Linked DNA regions of Homo sapiens. The protein of the gene in region 1 interacts with the protein of each later gene in a biochemical or structural test. Each region holds a gene or a part of one and is shown in the gene's direction. Other genes may lie near its edges.

Evidence for each region.
Region 2: of the proteins of UPP1 (region 1) and CTDP1, one has a biochemical effect on the other in vitro, tested with the Homo sapiens proteins (one study listed by BioGRID).

What each region holds. Positions count from the first base shown.
Region 1 is NC_000007.14:48,084,516-48,092,780, forward strand, and holds the start of UPP1 (uridine phosphorylase 1), read left to right. Parts: upstream 1-4,749; 5' UTR 4,750-4,903; intron 4,904-5,672; 5' UTR 5,673-5,849; intron 5,850-8,265. UniProt on the Homo sapiens protein: Catalyzes the reversible phosphorylytic cleavage of uridine to uracil and ribose-1-phosphate which can then be utilized as carbon and energy sources or in the rescue of pyrimidine bases for nucleotide synthesis.
Region 2 is NC_000018.10:79,682,570-79,690,202, forward strand, and holds part of CTDP1 (RNA polymerase II subunit A C-terminal domain phosphatase), read left to right. Parts: intron 1-7,633. UniProt on the Homo sapiens protein: Processively dephosphorylates 'Ser-2' and 'Ser-5' of the heptad repeats YSPTSPS in the C-terminal domain of the largest RNA polymerase II subunit. This promotes the activity of RNA polymerase II.

The sequences.
Region 1 (8,265 bases):
AATACCCTGGGTCTCCACAATCTTTTATCTTAACCTGGACATTTCCTTTCTATCAATCCAGGTCTTTAGACAAACTCAACCAATTGTAAACCAGAAAATGTCTAAATTTACCTATAGCCTTGAACCCTGCCCCCTACCCCGCTTTGAGTTGTCCTGCCTTTCTGGACCAAACCAATGTATTTCTTAAATGTATTTGATTGCTGTCTCATGCATTCCTAAAACATATAAAACCAAGCTGCACCCTGACCGCCTTGGGCACGTGTCCTCAGAACCTCCTGAGGGCCGTTTGCTGTGTCACGGGCCATGGTCATTCACATTTGGCTTAGGATAAATCTCTTCAAATATTTTACAGAGTTTGACTCTCTTTGTTGACTACTAGGACCAGCAACCTGGGAAAGTGATGGCTCATCAGACTGGACTCAGCTGCCAGGGGAGTGGGCCTGCCACTGTGAGCCTATCTGAGCTGGGGGTGGGTCAGGGGACTGAGTAGCTCTATATGATGAGTGAGAGTTGGCGGGAAGAATCTCACTTTTTGTATTTTGGCAAGAATTTGAAATCTCAGGGGTCTGAGTCATGCTGTAGTCTCACCACAGGCCTCAGGGGAGTCAACTTCTGACCTGGAGGCCTGGTCTGGGTTTGTGGTGTCTGAGTCATAGTTCGTGTGATAAAAGTACGTGCTCTGGTGTGGAAAGCAGGCAGAGGCTTTTTCACTCCATTCTGTCTCACTGACAATGAAAATGCTAGCTGTGACCCACCACATGGGTTTCATGACCCACGAATGGACCAGGCAGCTGTTTAGAAAACACTGCGGCTCAATTTCTGCCCTCTCTGAGGGGTGTTCTAGAAATCTGTATGGCTGCTGGATTGGAAAGAAAAGAGCAATTGCATGAGGAATTGGGAAGTGAGGACAAACAGAGAAGAAGCCTCAGCTACTATCTCTAAAATATTATCTGAGAAAGAAAACAAACAAACAAACAACAAACACATTTCTTTTCCTGAGGAAGGTGAGCCTTTAAATTATCAGGCCCAGAGAACATTTAGAACAGAACAGCAGTCATGGCTCACTTCCCCTTCAGCTAAGTGGTTACCTCTTGAAGCCACTTGCTATGTGGCTGTAGAATAACTGAGGCCAATTAGCCATAAGATGCCATCCACCCTATAGTTCAACACTGTGTGGGCAATCACTAACCAATGTTATTTCTGTAAACCAATGAGGATTCCTGACAACTCTGCAATCGCCCCATCTCCTGAGTTGTTCTTTTTTCTTTAAAAACTTGAGCCTCCTTTTTGTTCTTGGAGCACTCCCCATGGCAACTTAGAAGTGTGTCCTGGGCTACAGTCCTCAACCTGGGCACAAATAAACTCTCTATGTTAATTTTGTCTCATCTTTCTTTTAGGTAGACACATTAGCTTTGGGAGAATTTCAAAGAGTTTGAAGTTACTTAGATTTGGGAAACCTGAAGGGCAGTGGTGTGTCACTATCTGGTGTGGCCTGGCCTTCAGCCTCTCAGCCCCTTCCCTCCCCACCTCTCAGAGCTCAGGGCCAACTGCATCTCTGAAAGAGCCCAAAGACCTTGTTGAGGAGCAGGGGGATCCTGGCTGAGCCTGCAAGCCCTGGGTCTCTTCCAGACTTTCCTGCCTCTAGCAGCTGCTGCTCTAGGTGGCCATTGGTGGGCTGCATTTGCTCTCTGCTTGCAAACATTGATGACACAGGTATTTTGGGTGTGGTTTAGTAGTGGCCCGACACAATTTTGTTTCCAGTTTGTCACACTGACAAGGTTTTAACCTGACAAATGTTAAACACAAATTATAGGAGGCCATTGTTTTAGACTAAGCTCTTGCACTAGGCCCCAAAAGACAAGACTAAAAATAAAAATAAAGTCACCCATGCTAACGTTTCAGGTCACCAAACTTACTGGAAAGGCGTCCTGATCCTGAGCCCTAGAGAAAGTTCTTGGATCTCCTACAAGAAAGAATTTGGGGTGAGTCCACAGAGAACAGTAAAAGGAAGTTTATTAAGAAAGGAAGGGAATAAAAGAGTGGCTACTCCATAGGCAGAGCATCCCCAAGGGCTGCTGGTGGGTATTTTTTATGATTACTCTTGAATATGTGCTAAGCAAGGGGTGGATTATTCCTGAGTTTTCCAAGAAAGGGGTGAGTTATTTGGTTATTCCCCCTTCCCTTTTACAAGGGAACCCTTAATCCTAAGGGTTGTAGAGTCAGGAAATATGTCAGCAGGAGTCGACTCAGAGACTCTTCATCTTGAATAGGAGCTGGGTAAAATGAGGCTGAGATCTGCTGGAGTGCATTCCCAGGAGGTTAGGCATCCTTAGTCACAGGATGAAATAGAAGGTTGGCAGGTGGTATCACAAGATACAGGTTACAAAGACCTTGCTGATGAAACAGGATGCAGTAAAGAAGCCAGCCAAAACTGGCCAAAACCTGCCAAAAACCAGCAAGGTGAGGAAAACTACCTCTGGTCTTCCTCATTGCTCATTATTCGCTAATTACAATGCATTCTCATGCTAAACGACACTCCTACCAGCACCATGACAGTTTATAAATACCATGGCAACATTTAGAAGTTACCCTATATGTTCTAAAAGGAAGAATTCCTAGAAAACTCATGAATAATCCACCCTTATTTAGTATATGATCAAGAAATAACCATAAAAATAGCCAACCAGCAGCCCTAGAGGCTGCCCTGCCCATGGAATTGCCATTCTTTTATTCCTTTACTTTCTCAATAAGCTTGCTTCTTTCACTTTACTCTGTGGACTCACCCTGGCCCCGAATTCTTTCTTGCACAAGATCCAAGAACATTCTCTTGGGGTCTGGATTGGGACCCTTTTCCGGTAACAAAACTAAAACTAAGTTGTTAATCTACCTTCAGAGAGAGAGAATAGCAACTTCCTAACCAGGCCAGTTTCAGTCTTCAGTCTGAGGCAGCAAAATAGGGTCTGGAGGCAGGGAACATAAGGCCGATTCACACTTTAGCTATGACAGGAAATAGCCTCTGCGTAGGCCAAGTAAATGACTTTGTAACTTTGCATCATCCCTTTCATTTACATAGTGTGTGCCCCAAGCGGAGGACATTGAAACTCCCCAAAATTCTGGAATGGGGCCTTTGAGCCCCTACGCTCAGGCCCGCTCCCACACTGTGGAGTGTACTTTCATTTACCTTTTTTTTTTGAGATGGCGTCTCACTGTGTCACCAAGGCTGGAATGCAGTGGCATGATCTCAGCTCACTGCAACCTCTGCCACCCAGGTTCAAGTGGTTCTCCTGCCTCAGCCTCCCAAGTAGCTGGAATTACAGGCACCTGCCACTGTGACCGGCTAGGTTTTTTTTTTTGTTTTTTTTTTTTTTTTACTTTTAGTAGAGACGGGGTTTCACCATCTTGGTTAGGCTGGTCTTGAACTCCTGACTTTGTAATCCACCCGCCTCGGCCTCCCAAAGTGCTGGGATTACAGGTGTGAGCCACTGCGCCTGGCCGTACTTTCATTTTCAATAAAACCCTTAATTCCTTCCTTGATTTGTTTGTGTGTTTCACTCTTGTCACCCAGTATGGAGTGCAATGGCGCGATCTCGGCTCACTGCATCCTTCGCTGGGTTCAAGCAATTCTCCTGCCTCGGCCTGCCTAGTACCTGGGATTACAGGCACGCGACACCACGTCCAGCTAATTTTTTGTATTTTTAGTAGTGACGGGGTTTCACCATGTTGGGCAGGCTGGTCTCGAACTCCTGACCTCAGGTGATCCATCCGCCTCGGCCTTCCAAAGTGCTGGGATTACAGGCGTGAGCCACCACTCCCGGCCCAACCCCATGTTTTCTCAGGAACTGGAGTTCCCTTTAGGAAGCAAGTAACAGAGGTGCTGGGCTGCCCGGGCCTCTAGGTCGTCTTCTTTCCCAGGCTCTGTGCTCTCACCAGAGTGCGCGTTCGGGAAGCAGGGAGAGGACCAGGAAAGACGCCTGAGACGGAGAGTGGGCACCGGCCGGGGGCAGGCAGGTCCGGCCCCTGGGGGTCAGAGTGCAGCGCCGGTTTGAGGCAGTTCGGCCACTTAGCTGCGACTCGAAGTGAATGAGTCACTTCCCCTCCTCGGGCGAGCTCCTGGCTTTGCCCCAGCAAGCGGGAACTCCCAGGATCAGGAAGGTCCCAGAGAAACTCCCCAGGGGGGAAGCCGAGGCCGTCCAGAGAGATCCAGGGTACACACAGTGACAGTGCCAGCTCCACATTCCCGACCACCGGGCCAGGGCTGGTTCCACGCTGTCATTTCTCTCCGCTGGCCCCAGCCGCGGGGCCACCGCCAGACAGACAGACCGGGGATCCTGCCTGGCGGCGTGACCTTGGGTTAGTCCTAGAGCCGCTTCTAGCCCGGTTTCCTCCGCCCCAGGTTAGGACCACGTGGGTAAGAAGATTTCCTCTGTAGTAGGGGCTGTTTAATGAGTAACAGAACTGGCTGCTGGTTCTTTACAATTGCCCAGCTGCTCTGCAGAGGCGAGAAGCAATTGCGGGCTGAGCCTCCCGGGACCTTCGCGGGAGGGTGGAGAGGAGGAAGGCGGGGGAGGCGGGGCCAGAGGGGCAGAGGAAGGTGGGGGCGGGCGGGGCTTGTCTGCGGGATGGCCCAGGATGCGGTCAGCTGAGTTCGCCGGCCCAGGGCAGGCGGGGCCCGAGCCTAGCGGTAACCCCCGGGCAGGGCGGGGCCGCTCGCAGACTCCATATGAGATTCACCTCGCAGGTGGTTCCCTCATTCGAGTGCTCCGGCGCACAGACCCGCGCCCCGCCGTCTGCGAGCCTCCCGAGAGCCGTCCCTTCGTCCGGCCCTGGAGCATTGCGTTTGTCGCCGGTGTCGCAGTGCGAGGATGGCGCCGCGGGTGTAGCGGCTCTCTGCGCAGGCCGAGTGGTGAGTCGCCCGCGGCCCGGCTCCCGCCGTTCTCTCTTCCCAGGGGTCTAGCCCGTCCCCTGCCTTGGCCACGTGCCCATTTACCTGTAGGGGCGGTGACGGAGGCTCTGGTGCACCTTGGCTGTGAGCTGCAGAGGAGCAGAGAGCGGCCCGGCGCGGCTGCGCGGGGAGGCGGGCGCGCGGCCGGGAGGTTCTGGGGCTGGTGTGTGCGGAGCGAGGTGGGCGTGGGGGAAGCGCGCGGGCGGGATGTGCTTCCTCGGGTCCACCCCGTGCCTACCTCTCCCACGTCCCGGCGACGGAGCGCGCGGGGCTCTGGGCGGGGAGCCCACCGGGCCGAGGCGCAGCGAGGGTGAAGCCAGAGCCGGCAGGGTCAGGTCCCGCAGGGCGCAGGCGGGCGCTTCTCGCAGCCCAAACCCGGGCGGGGAGTGCGGGAACCCCTAGAACTATGCTGGGAGCCCCAGATAAGAGGAAGGAGATGGTGACTTAAGTGACGAAGTGATGTTTTGTCCCCACCGCCTTTTAAAGGGAGAAGGGGGTAAAATTTCATTTGGAGGATGATTGTTACGCGAGCTTTCAGAGTTCAGATGGCGTCAAGTGGCCATCGAGTCAACATTTAACAAAATGTTACCGCATAAAATATTGTCATCGAGTTATCTGGCAGCTCCGCAGAGAAACTTCACAGGCATATGCGTTATATGACATAATTTGCATGGGGAAGGGGGTCCCTTCACGATTCTTTTATATGGCAACCTGTTCTTGGACCTGGCAGGGCCCAGAGAAGCGAGGAACTCCGCAGCTCGTCGACACGTCTCGTCTCCTGTCCCAATTCAGGGCTTGGTGAGGTGACTCGCGGTCGCGGGTGACTCGCCGGCAGGACACTGCCTGGAACGCCTGGAGCGCCTCCCACTGCAGACGTCTGTCCGCCTCCAGCCGCTCTCCTCTGACGGTCAGTTTCAAAGAAACACAGTCTGGGATCCGGAGTAGAAAGAGGCCGTTTCCCGTGAAGGCCATAGAGGCAGTTTCCAGGCGCCTGGGTGACCTGTCTCTGCACTTCCCTCTCTGCTTCTCCATCCCTGTTTCCTTTCCCCACTGTCCCCTGCCTGGCCTTTCTTTGGCTCATTTTCTGCCTTCCTGGGGTCTTCTGGTTAAAAAGACCATTGGTTCCATTCATTGGCTGTAACCGCGGGTCTTTAAAAAACTTTGTGACTTCCTTGAATAGAAAGAATGTCTTACTCTGGATTTCTACAAGCGCTGCTGAGCCATTCCCAGGGCAGGCCTTTGTCTCTCCCGCCTTTCAGTTTGTTTGCCCATCTGCATTTTGGCCCAAGCTTTCCCCATTTCTCAGCTGCTCTTACATTATTTCTTTTTTCAGAGGCTACCCTGACCTTCTAGTCCTCTGCATTAAACCTCATCACCGCAGACCGTTTTAATTCAGCACAGGTGTATCGAGCACAAATTATATTCTTGGTTCCAATACTTTCAGCACTGGTGGGCATTCATGTTTCATTTAAGAAGGATAAATTAGTGTTTCTTTACATGGGCTTTTTGTCAAAGTGGAATTTTGTTGACTTTACTGATCTTAAAATTAACGCAAACTTATTGTAAAAACAAACAAACAAAAAAACCCAAAAACCAAAAATCAAATATATAACAGAAAATGAAACTTCTAGGTTTTCCTCTTCCCTAAAGATAAACAACAAACATTCTTCTTCCTTCTCCTCTCTCTCTCACACACATTTGCTTTTGAAATATGTTCATTCAAAAAAGTATTTTAAATGTTTACAAGCTAAGTTATTTATGCAAGTAACTTACCAATCTGATTTGAGTTTAACGGGTTAAAACTAAAAAAAAAAATCAAAAACATCTTCAGTTTTTTTTTTTTTTTAAGTAAGATGGATCTGGCTGGTAATAGGTAGAGAGCCCCAGGTGATCACCGAAAAGACTCTTCCTTGGGGAGCCAAATCCTAAGCCAGGTTTAGGATTTCCCTGGGAGGTAGAATTTGCAGCCCAGGTAAAACCAGCAAAACTCTCCTGTTATGTGGGGAGGGGAGCGAAGAGCATGGCTTTCTAGAGAGGTGAGAGAAGACTTGTTGAGAAACTGAATTTCATTTCCTTACGGAAGTTGGAGAACATTGTGGTACAATGTTAGGAGAAAGGTTTTCTAAAATCAGTGCAGTCTGACATCTTCAACACCAGGGTCTTTTCCACTGGAGCACTGCAGACATCTGCAACTTTCTCTGCCTACGTGGGTGTGGTTAAATAGACCCTCCCTGAGTGCAGGGCTGAAAAGTGGAGAGAAGTTAGTTCTTGGGACACTCACACCCAGGAGGGGGGATCCTGCAGGTACTAAGATTGCAAAGGGAAAGAGAGAGTGAGGCTGGTCCTGGAGCCCACTAGGAAGGAGCCAGCGGAAAGCAGTGACTGGACAAGGGAACTGATTTCTCTGCTGATGTGGCCTTGGTTTCTCTGGTTCAGAGTAAAGAAAAGCAACCAAACCTAGAGAGAAACATCCTTACTCTACAAGGCCAGACGGGAAGTTCTGTCTTTGGCTTGGTTTCCTTTTCTACAAACGGGGTTGGATTCTCTCTGGAGAGCTTTCCGGGGGCCACTCAGCAGTCTCTGATTCAGTGGGATGTTCTCAGCTGCTGGCCCAAGGGAGCTCACCTCTTAGCTCTTCCCCTGCCTGGTTCACTGGGGGGCTGCTCCCTCCCATTAGCTCCCTACCCCTAAAGACAAAAATAGCAGCCTGGAGGGGGCAGAGTTTTAGGGGAGGTTGTAAGAGGGCACATTCTTCAGAGGAGCCACTCTTACGGGGGAATGTTCCTGCCCCACAGAAACTGGCCCTGGGGATCAGGACTCTGCCTGACCCTAAACCCTACTTCTTCCCTCAGTCGGTAGGTCTGCTTAATGGATCCTGAAGAAGGCCTGAAATCATGACCAGACCCCTACGCCCCGGGATCCTCCTGTAGTGCCTTTTGATAAGAAGCACTGCCCTGGCTTCTCTCTCCTCCTTCCACATGTGTAGGGAGAGGTAGCTCTGCCTATTCATGAAGCTTCATCCCTACACTGTCCTTCATTTGGCCCCTGGTGAACCGGGGGCCAAGGTGTGATACCTCTTTTAAAACTCATTCCCTTCACACTGGTGTTGTGACTCATGCCTGTAATTCCAGCTACTTGGAGGCTGAGGTGGGAGGATCACGTGAGCCCAGTAATTTGAGGCGGCAGTGAGCTGTGATTGCACCACTCCACTCCAGCCTGGGTAACAGAGTGAGACCCTGTTTGTTTCTTTTTTTTTTTTTTTTGAGACAGAGTCTTGCTCTTTCACCCAGGCTGGAGTGCAGTGGCATGATCTCGACTCACTA
Region 2 (7,633 bases), on another chromosome or scaffold:
TTATGTAGATGTTTTTCAGTAAATCGTCTGCTGTTCGCATCCATGGGTTCCACGCCCAACACTGTTTGCTGGGTGTGGAGCCCAGCCTGTTTATACAGAGCGCTGACTTTCTGGATCAGTGGGTTCTCCAGGTTGACTGCGGGACCTGAGTATCTGTGGATGTGGAATTTGGTATCTGAAGGAGTCCTGCAGCCCGTCCCCCGTGAGAATGAGGGACTGATTAAATATGGAAGTCTTTCCATAATAGATTGTGCCGCTTTGTGATGAAGTAGAGAATATTGGGCATAATTCCATCCTGATGTTGGAAGGTGATAGGTGTGAGTTTAGTTCTCATCCCTGCGACGCCTCTGGGACGTCGGTTGGTGAAGAGCATCTGCCTTCCTCTAGAGAGCCTGAGTCACTTTCACTTAAAAGGTTTTTCCTCTGTTTTTCTTTTTTTCTCTGATTGCTGGTGTGGTCATTTCCAGCAACAGCTCCGCGGTTCTCTTCTGCGGTGTCCCACCACTTGGAGGCTGGAAGGTGAAGACATCAGGGAAGAGGAACTGCCTTCAACCGTCATTGACTCTGCTCACCAGCCCAGGTGTTTGATTTTTACTAAGCAAGTTCCCAGAATTGCACGTGGGCTGTTTTATAATTGACTTATCTTGACCACCTCTAAAAGTTCTCTTGAAGTTACAGATTCCTGAGATCTTTATCTGGGAGAGCAAGCATTTGGTTGAAGTTTGCTTTAAATGTTTATAGACTGATTATCGTGTATTGATCCTTAGAGTACCCCTTTCAGATTATGCAAATAACACGCACTTGTATAGACAAGCATGGGCAGAATCCACAACTGCTTTTGTGGAGGCTCCAACCCTGGCTTCAGCTCATCTGCGTGTGAGGGCAGGGGAGGTGCAGAATCTGCTCCTGGGCTTGTGCTGAAAGGAGGTCCCTTTTAACAGGGACCTCCCAGCACCAATGGAACCCCGTGGCTCTTGGTGAGAGAGAGCAGGTCCTGCCCAGCTGATGGATCAGAAACTCAGGTGTCAGAAACGGGGTTTCAGGGCGGCTGCCTGAGGAATGCGCAGGCGATCTGACGTTGGAATTCTGGCTTGGGCGAAGCCCTTGATGTGGCCACACAGTTTTGGTCCCTCAAGGGCTTACTGGTTGCCTGCGTGCCCTGGTGGCTCCTTGGTGAGGGGCCTTTGGAGAAAGTCTTGGGAAATCAGATTTCCCGAGGGTGTTGTTGAGGACATTGCTGACGAGGTGTGGGATTTACGGGGAGGACAGCCTGTCTCTTGAGGCTTGGTCGCTGTGTTCACCCTGCAGGTGTTATGAATTAGCTTCTGGCCCAGGACGGTTTTGGGACCGGGGGGTGCCTACCCACTGTTGTTCCTTTATCTTGATCCTTTCACAGGGCTTATAAAAATACTTATTTTTCAGGAATAACGGGAAGTATCTTTGAAAACATAGCATTAAATCTGCTGAACTGGAGCTTGCAGAGAGCAGACAGCGGCAGCAGCCTGAGTGTGCTAAGCTCAAGCGTCGCTTGTGTGCCATCACCTTAGTGAAGGTGGCTCTTGACCCCACTGGCCGCCGGCTGCTTGACAGTAACTTGTTTAGCTGAGACTGTGTTTGAGAAACTGAGAGGTGTGGATGTTGCTTGTACATGTGCAGCCAGCATGCTCACAGTGCCGAGGAGCAGACTACGCGCTGCTCCAGAGCGTAGATTAGAACGTCAGTCTAAACAGTTCTTTATAGCATGGAATTTTAACAAAGAAAGAAGAATCCCACGTGGGTATGTGTGAGTGAGCCTTGTGTAGCTTAGTGTCGGTTACTGAGGCGGAGCACTGCGGAGAGAGGTAATGGAACCTGTGGCCCTGTGAAACCTCCCTCTATAAATAGCAGGTGTGAGTGAACCTGTGAAAAGCACCAGCACCAGCCAGGCAGGGTGGGTCCGTGCCCTCGTTGCCTGCATTGTTGTCACCAGGCAAGGTGGGTCCCTGCTCTTGTTACCTTCATTGTTGTCACCAGGCAAGGTGGGTCCGTGCCCTCGTTGCCTGCGTTGTTGTCACCAGGCAAGGTGGGTCCGTGCCCTCGTTGCCTGCATTGTTGTTACCAGCAACATTTATCCTAACCACATCAGTGGTTATTTTTAGACAAAGAACCATTCTGGGAACTTAAAAACACTGCATTTGGGTGAAGTTACAATAGTCACTAGATTGTCGTTTTGATCTTTAATAAGATTGTATGTTTTTGTCGGGCTTCATCCTATCTGGCAGAAGTAAGAACCTCCTCACTCCATTGGAAAGAAACTGAGGTTCCAAGAAGTTTGGACCTGCCCTGCCCCTTACAGGGTGTGAGGTCCTGGTGAGGAGGACGGTGCAGGGACCTCGTGGTCTCTACTCCCGGTTTCTCTGCGGTGCTCCTTACGGGGTGTGAGGTCCTGGTGAGGAGGACGGTGCAGGGACCTCGTGGTCTCTACTCCCAGTTTCTCTGCGGTGCTCCTTACGGGGTGTGAGGTCCTGGTGAGGAGGACGGTGCAGATGCCTCGTGGTGTGCTCAGGCCCTTGAGAGAGCCTCTGTCCTTGGTTCTCTGCGTGCTGCTCTCTGTAGACCAGGTTTCAGCCCTGGAGATTCCTAGTGTGGGGGGAGTAGCTAGAACAATAGTGTTTGTCTGCTTTTATAATATTTATGTGGAGTACAATTATTTTAATAGAAAATATTCTGACAGGTCACCATCTTTCAGAAACTAAGTCTTTTTTTTCCTGCAGATTTCTTTGCTTTGGCTTTTTCCCAGTCACTCACAGGGAGGTATTTAAATCGCCACAGAAAGGGGAAGGTACCTAAAATGATCTGGGAGCCTGCAGTGACTGGTGAGAACTAACAGGCGGAGGCCGTGTGCGAGGGTTGATGACGTCTGACAGACTGTACCTGTGCCTTTAGCGTGTCCACAGGAAGGGCATCTGCATTCACCAGCGCAGGGTGTGAGAGTGCCACAGAGAAGCAGAAAAACATTGCTGAATAAAATGAAGATCATTCCAACAGCAACGGTATTGCTGTCTTTATTGCTTTGTAGATTTTGGAATGAGAATCTCTGAGAAATAGTAATACAGTTAGAATAGGCTGCAACCTAAGATTAGTCCCCGAATTTATTGTTCTGTGATGAGGGAGTAGAAGCCTCTGAAATTCTAAATGTGCTTCAGTCAGTGCACGAACGTCGTCACCTAAGGGTCCGGTCCTGGAAATAAGGACATTTCGTTTTCATCCTGGTACCAAGAATCTTGATGAATTGGTAATTCTTTTAGAATAGTTTTATTATTAACAATTCTAATAATTATTTAGAATACTTTTATTCTTCCCTGTTGACGCCTGCACTATTTAAAGGATGATACTTTAAAAAAGATATTTGTGCCTAAAATTTGGGGGGCTGTCACTTTGTCAGCCCATTAAACGTGGGTAAGTTGCACTTCAAACGTTTTGCTTTGTTTTTCCCACTTTTCACCTAACAGAAAACCACTGGGCCTTGTTACTTGCTTGGTTTTGTTCGTCTGTGATTTACCTTTGTCATGGGTTTTTAGGTATCTCCGATCTAATCTTTTAGATAAAGGACTTTGAAGCACGTCTGCCTGGAAATGGTTTGTAGGTTTCAGAAATTTTGTGTGCATTATCAGATTTGTCTCCATTTTCATGGTTTCTTTAAAGTTAGTTTTAAAGTGGGTTATGTGAAATCATCTAGTATCTGGGTACAGAGGAATGGATGAATTCTCAGTTTTATGTGTGTTTTAAAAGTGCACAAATACAAAACGGAAAACAAGCGATGTAAGTTGTCTCAGAAAAAAGTGCTTTTTATATTTTCAGGAGAAAGAGAATGTAGAGAGAATGGAACTGATGAGTTTGAAGAGATTCAGGTGATATTTCTTAAAGGATAAATGCACATTTTAAAGGTTATGAAGAGATGGTCTTGGTAGGTTTTTAAATATACATCTAGCATCATATGTGCAAAATTCCTTACAATGTTAAGAGGAACTTGAGCTAAAACTTAACTCATTTAATATTTGTAACATTTTTGAAGTAGCGTTTAAAAGACAGTAATTTCCCTACGGTGCTTTAAATGGTGAAGAATGCTGGTGTCGTACGATTTTGATGCATTTTTTGTGCTGACTATAGACTGGCGGGAATGATGCAGTTAGCGAGTTGATACCCAGCATCATGTTGGCTTCTCCAGTTCACTGGTGGGCCTGCACCACAGCAGTTGGCTTCTCCAGTTCACTGGTGGGCCTGCACCGCAGCAGTTGGCTTCGTCAGTTCACTGGTGGGCCTGCACCGCAGCAGTTGGCTTCGCCAGTTCACTGGTGGGCCTGCACCGCAGCAGTTGGCTTCTCCAGTTCACTGGTGGGCCTGCACCGCAGCAGTTGGCTTCTCCAGTTCACTGGTGGGCCTGCACCGCAGCAGTTGGCTTCTCCAGTTCACTGGTGGGCCTGCACCGCAGCAGTTGACTTCTCCAGTTCACTGGTGGGCCTGCACCGCAGCAGTTGGCTTCGTCAGTTCACTGGTGGGCCTGCACCGCAGCAGTTGGCTTCTCCAGTTCACTGGTGGGCCTGCACCGCAGCAGTTGGCTTCGTCAGTTCACTGGTGGGCCTGCACCGCAGCAGTTGGCTTCTCCAGTTCACTGGTGGGCATGCACCGCAGCAGTTGGCTTCGTCAGTTCACTGGTGGGCCTGCACCAGAGCAGTTGGCTTCTCCAGTTCACTGGTGGGCCTGCACCGCAGCAGTTGGCTTCGCCAGTTCACTGGTGGGCCTGCACCGCAGCAGTTGGCTTCGTCAGTTCACTGGTGGGCCTGCACCGGAGCAGTTGGCTTCTCCAGTTCACTGGTGGGCCTGCACCGCAGCAGTTGGCTTCGCCAGTTCACTGGTGGGCCTGCACCGCAGCAGTTGGCTTCGTCAGTTCACTGGTGGGCCTGCACCGGAGCAGTTGGCTTCTCCAGTTCACTGGTGGGCCTGCACCGCAGCAGTTGGCTTCTCCAGTTCACTGGTGGGCCTGCACCGCAGCAGTTGGCTTCTCCAGTTCACTGGTGGGCCTGCACCGCAGCAGTTGGCTTCGCCAGTTCACTGGTGGGCCTGCACCGCAGCAGTTGACTTCTCCAGTTCACTGGTGGGCATGCACCGGAGCAGTTGGTTGGTTGTCCTGAGCATACCACCAGGGGGTTAAAGTGTTTTCAGGCTGGAAGCATTTGACACCATGGCTCCCTGGGGTCTGTGGAGGTTCTGAGGCAAGGACTTTCCTTGCAGGTCTGTTTACCCAGCAGAGAGGGCAGTAGGGTCTGAATGGTGTGGTGCACGTGGTGCCACGTGGTTTTGAGACGTGCTGGGAACTGGTTTTGTTGGATGACTCGCTCTAGACCACAGTGGCAGTGTTGAAGCTTTCCAGCCACGGCTCTGTGGATGTGTGCAGTGTTGGGAATCAGGCTGGGCTGCCCTTGTTCCTTCTTTACATTCCTCAGACGTTGTGCTTTACAGCCACAGTTTCAGTAACCGCTGCCAGAGCCCCACCTGTGCGTGTTCTCCAGGATGGCTGCGTCTGGGCTCTGGGCGACTGAACCAGGTGCAGAGCGTCAGCCACAGCTGACGACTGCACTGCACTGGACTCCAGCCTGGGGCTCCCACCCCTGTGGCTGCACAGGAGACAAAACAACAACACTTGTTCCTTTGAAGCTGTTTGTTTTTTGTTTTGAGATGAAGTTTCACTGTTGTCACCCAGGCTGGAGTGCAGCGGTGCAATCTCAGTTCACTGCAACCTCCACCTCCTGGGTTCAAGCGATTCTCCTGCCTCGGCCTCCTGAGTAGCTGGGATTACAGGTGCCCACCACCATGCCCAGCTAATTATTGTATTTTTAGTAGAGACAGGGTTTCACCATGTTGGCCAGGCTGGTCTCGAACTCCTGACCTCAGGTGATCCACCTGCCTCGGCCTCCTGAAGTGTTGGGATTACAGGCGTGAGCCACCGCGCCCAACTAATTTTTGTATTTTTAGTAGAGGCAGGGTTTTACCATGTTGGCCAGGCTCATCTCGAACTCCTGACCTCAGGTGACCCACCTGCCTTGGCTTCCCAAAGTGCTGGGATTACAGGCGTGAGCCATCACTCCCAGCCACACCCGGCTAATTTTTGTATTTTTAGTAGAGACGATTTCACCACGTTGGCCAGGCTGGTCTGGAACTTCTGACCTCAGGTGATCCTGCCTCAGCCTCGCTAAGTGCTGGGATTACAGGCGTGAGCCACCACACCCAGCCACTCTGGCTCTTTTGGGACATAATTTTTGACCTTAAAGTTGCAAGAACAGTGCACAGAATTCTCACACCAGCTTCACCCCAGATTCCGCAAATGTTAATGCTTTGCTGAGTTTGCTTATCTTTCCCCATGCACACGCACATTTTTCTGGAGTTGGAGAGTTAGTTGCAGGTGTGATGTCACTTCACCCCTAAATACTTGAGTTTCCTGAAAACAAAGACGTGCTCTTACATAGCACTAATAGTCCTAATAAAGTCCTTTGTAACAAAAGCAAGCCCTGGACCCCACGTGGCATCGCTGGTTGAACCCTCAAGAGTCAGCTCCTTCGTCTTTCTTTCTTTCTGTATCATTGCCTGGTTTAGTAGGACATCCCTCAGTTAGATCGCAGCTGTGCACTCTGGTGAGACTGTCCCAGAGCCTGCGTTTAGTGAAGGTGGTGTCTGTTGTAAAAAGTTACAACTTTTCCTGTTGTAATTCAGTATCTTGAAAGAGATACTTTGTTACCACATAAATACATTTGCACCAAGCTGACCCACATTTTGGGTATCTGTCAGTGATTCCTGCTTGAATCGCTTCATTTCTAGGATGATAGTCCAGTGGTGGTGTTCTCAATTCCAGCATTTCTTCTCCACTTTTTGGTTGACTTTCTGCCGTAAGAACAAATAAGGCCAGGCGTAGTGGCTCACGCCTGTAATCCCAGCACTTTGGGAGGCCAAGGTGAACAGATCACCTGAGGTCAGGAATTCGAGACCAGCCTGGCCAATATGGTGAAACCCCATCTCTACTAAAAATACAAAAATAGGCGTGATGGTGCGCACCTGCAGTCCCAGCTACTCGGGAGGCTGAGGCAAGAGAATCACTTGAACCCCAGAGGCAGAGATTGCAGTGAGCTAAGATCACACCACTGCACTGCAAACTAGGTGACGGAGCGAGACTCCGTCACAAATAAGTAACATGTCTATTTAGCAGTGTAGGCTCATGGTTTCTTATTTAATGGCTTATAATCTGTTATTGTTATTATTTGCCTTGACACAAAACTTATCCCAGCTGTGGCCGGCGGGATCCCCGTGGTGCTGGTTCCCGGCGGCTGAGTCTTGAGGCATTGCCGCCTTGTCTGCATAACGGATTCTAGGCTGCTGCTCTCCTGGCCACAGTCCTGGAATCAGCCATTCTCCAACAAATCCTGCTGCTTCTTGGTGGAGAATGACATTTAGAAACCCAAGGTCTAGGTGCAAAAAATACACTCTTCCCTCTAAATACATTTCTACACTCAGAATGTTGGAACTTAGGGAAGACCCTGGAGCCCTCCTGATCTGTAGAAGGAAGGGAGAAGGTTGGACCCACCTGGAGGCGATGCTCAGAGGT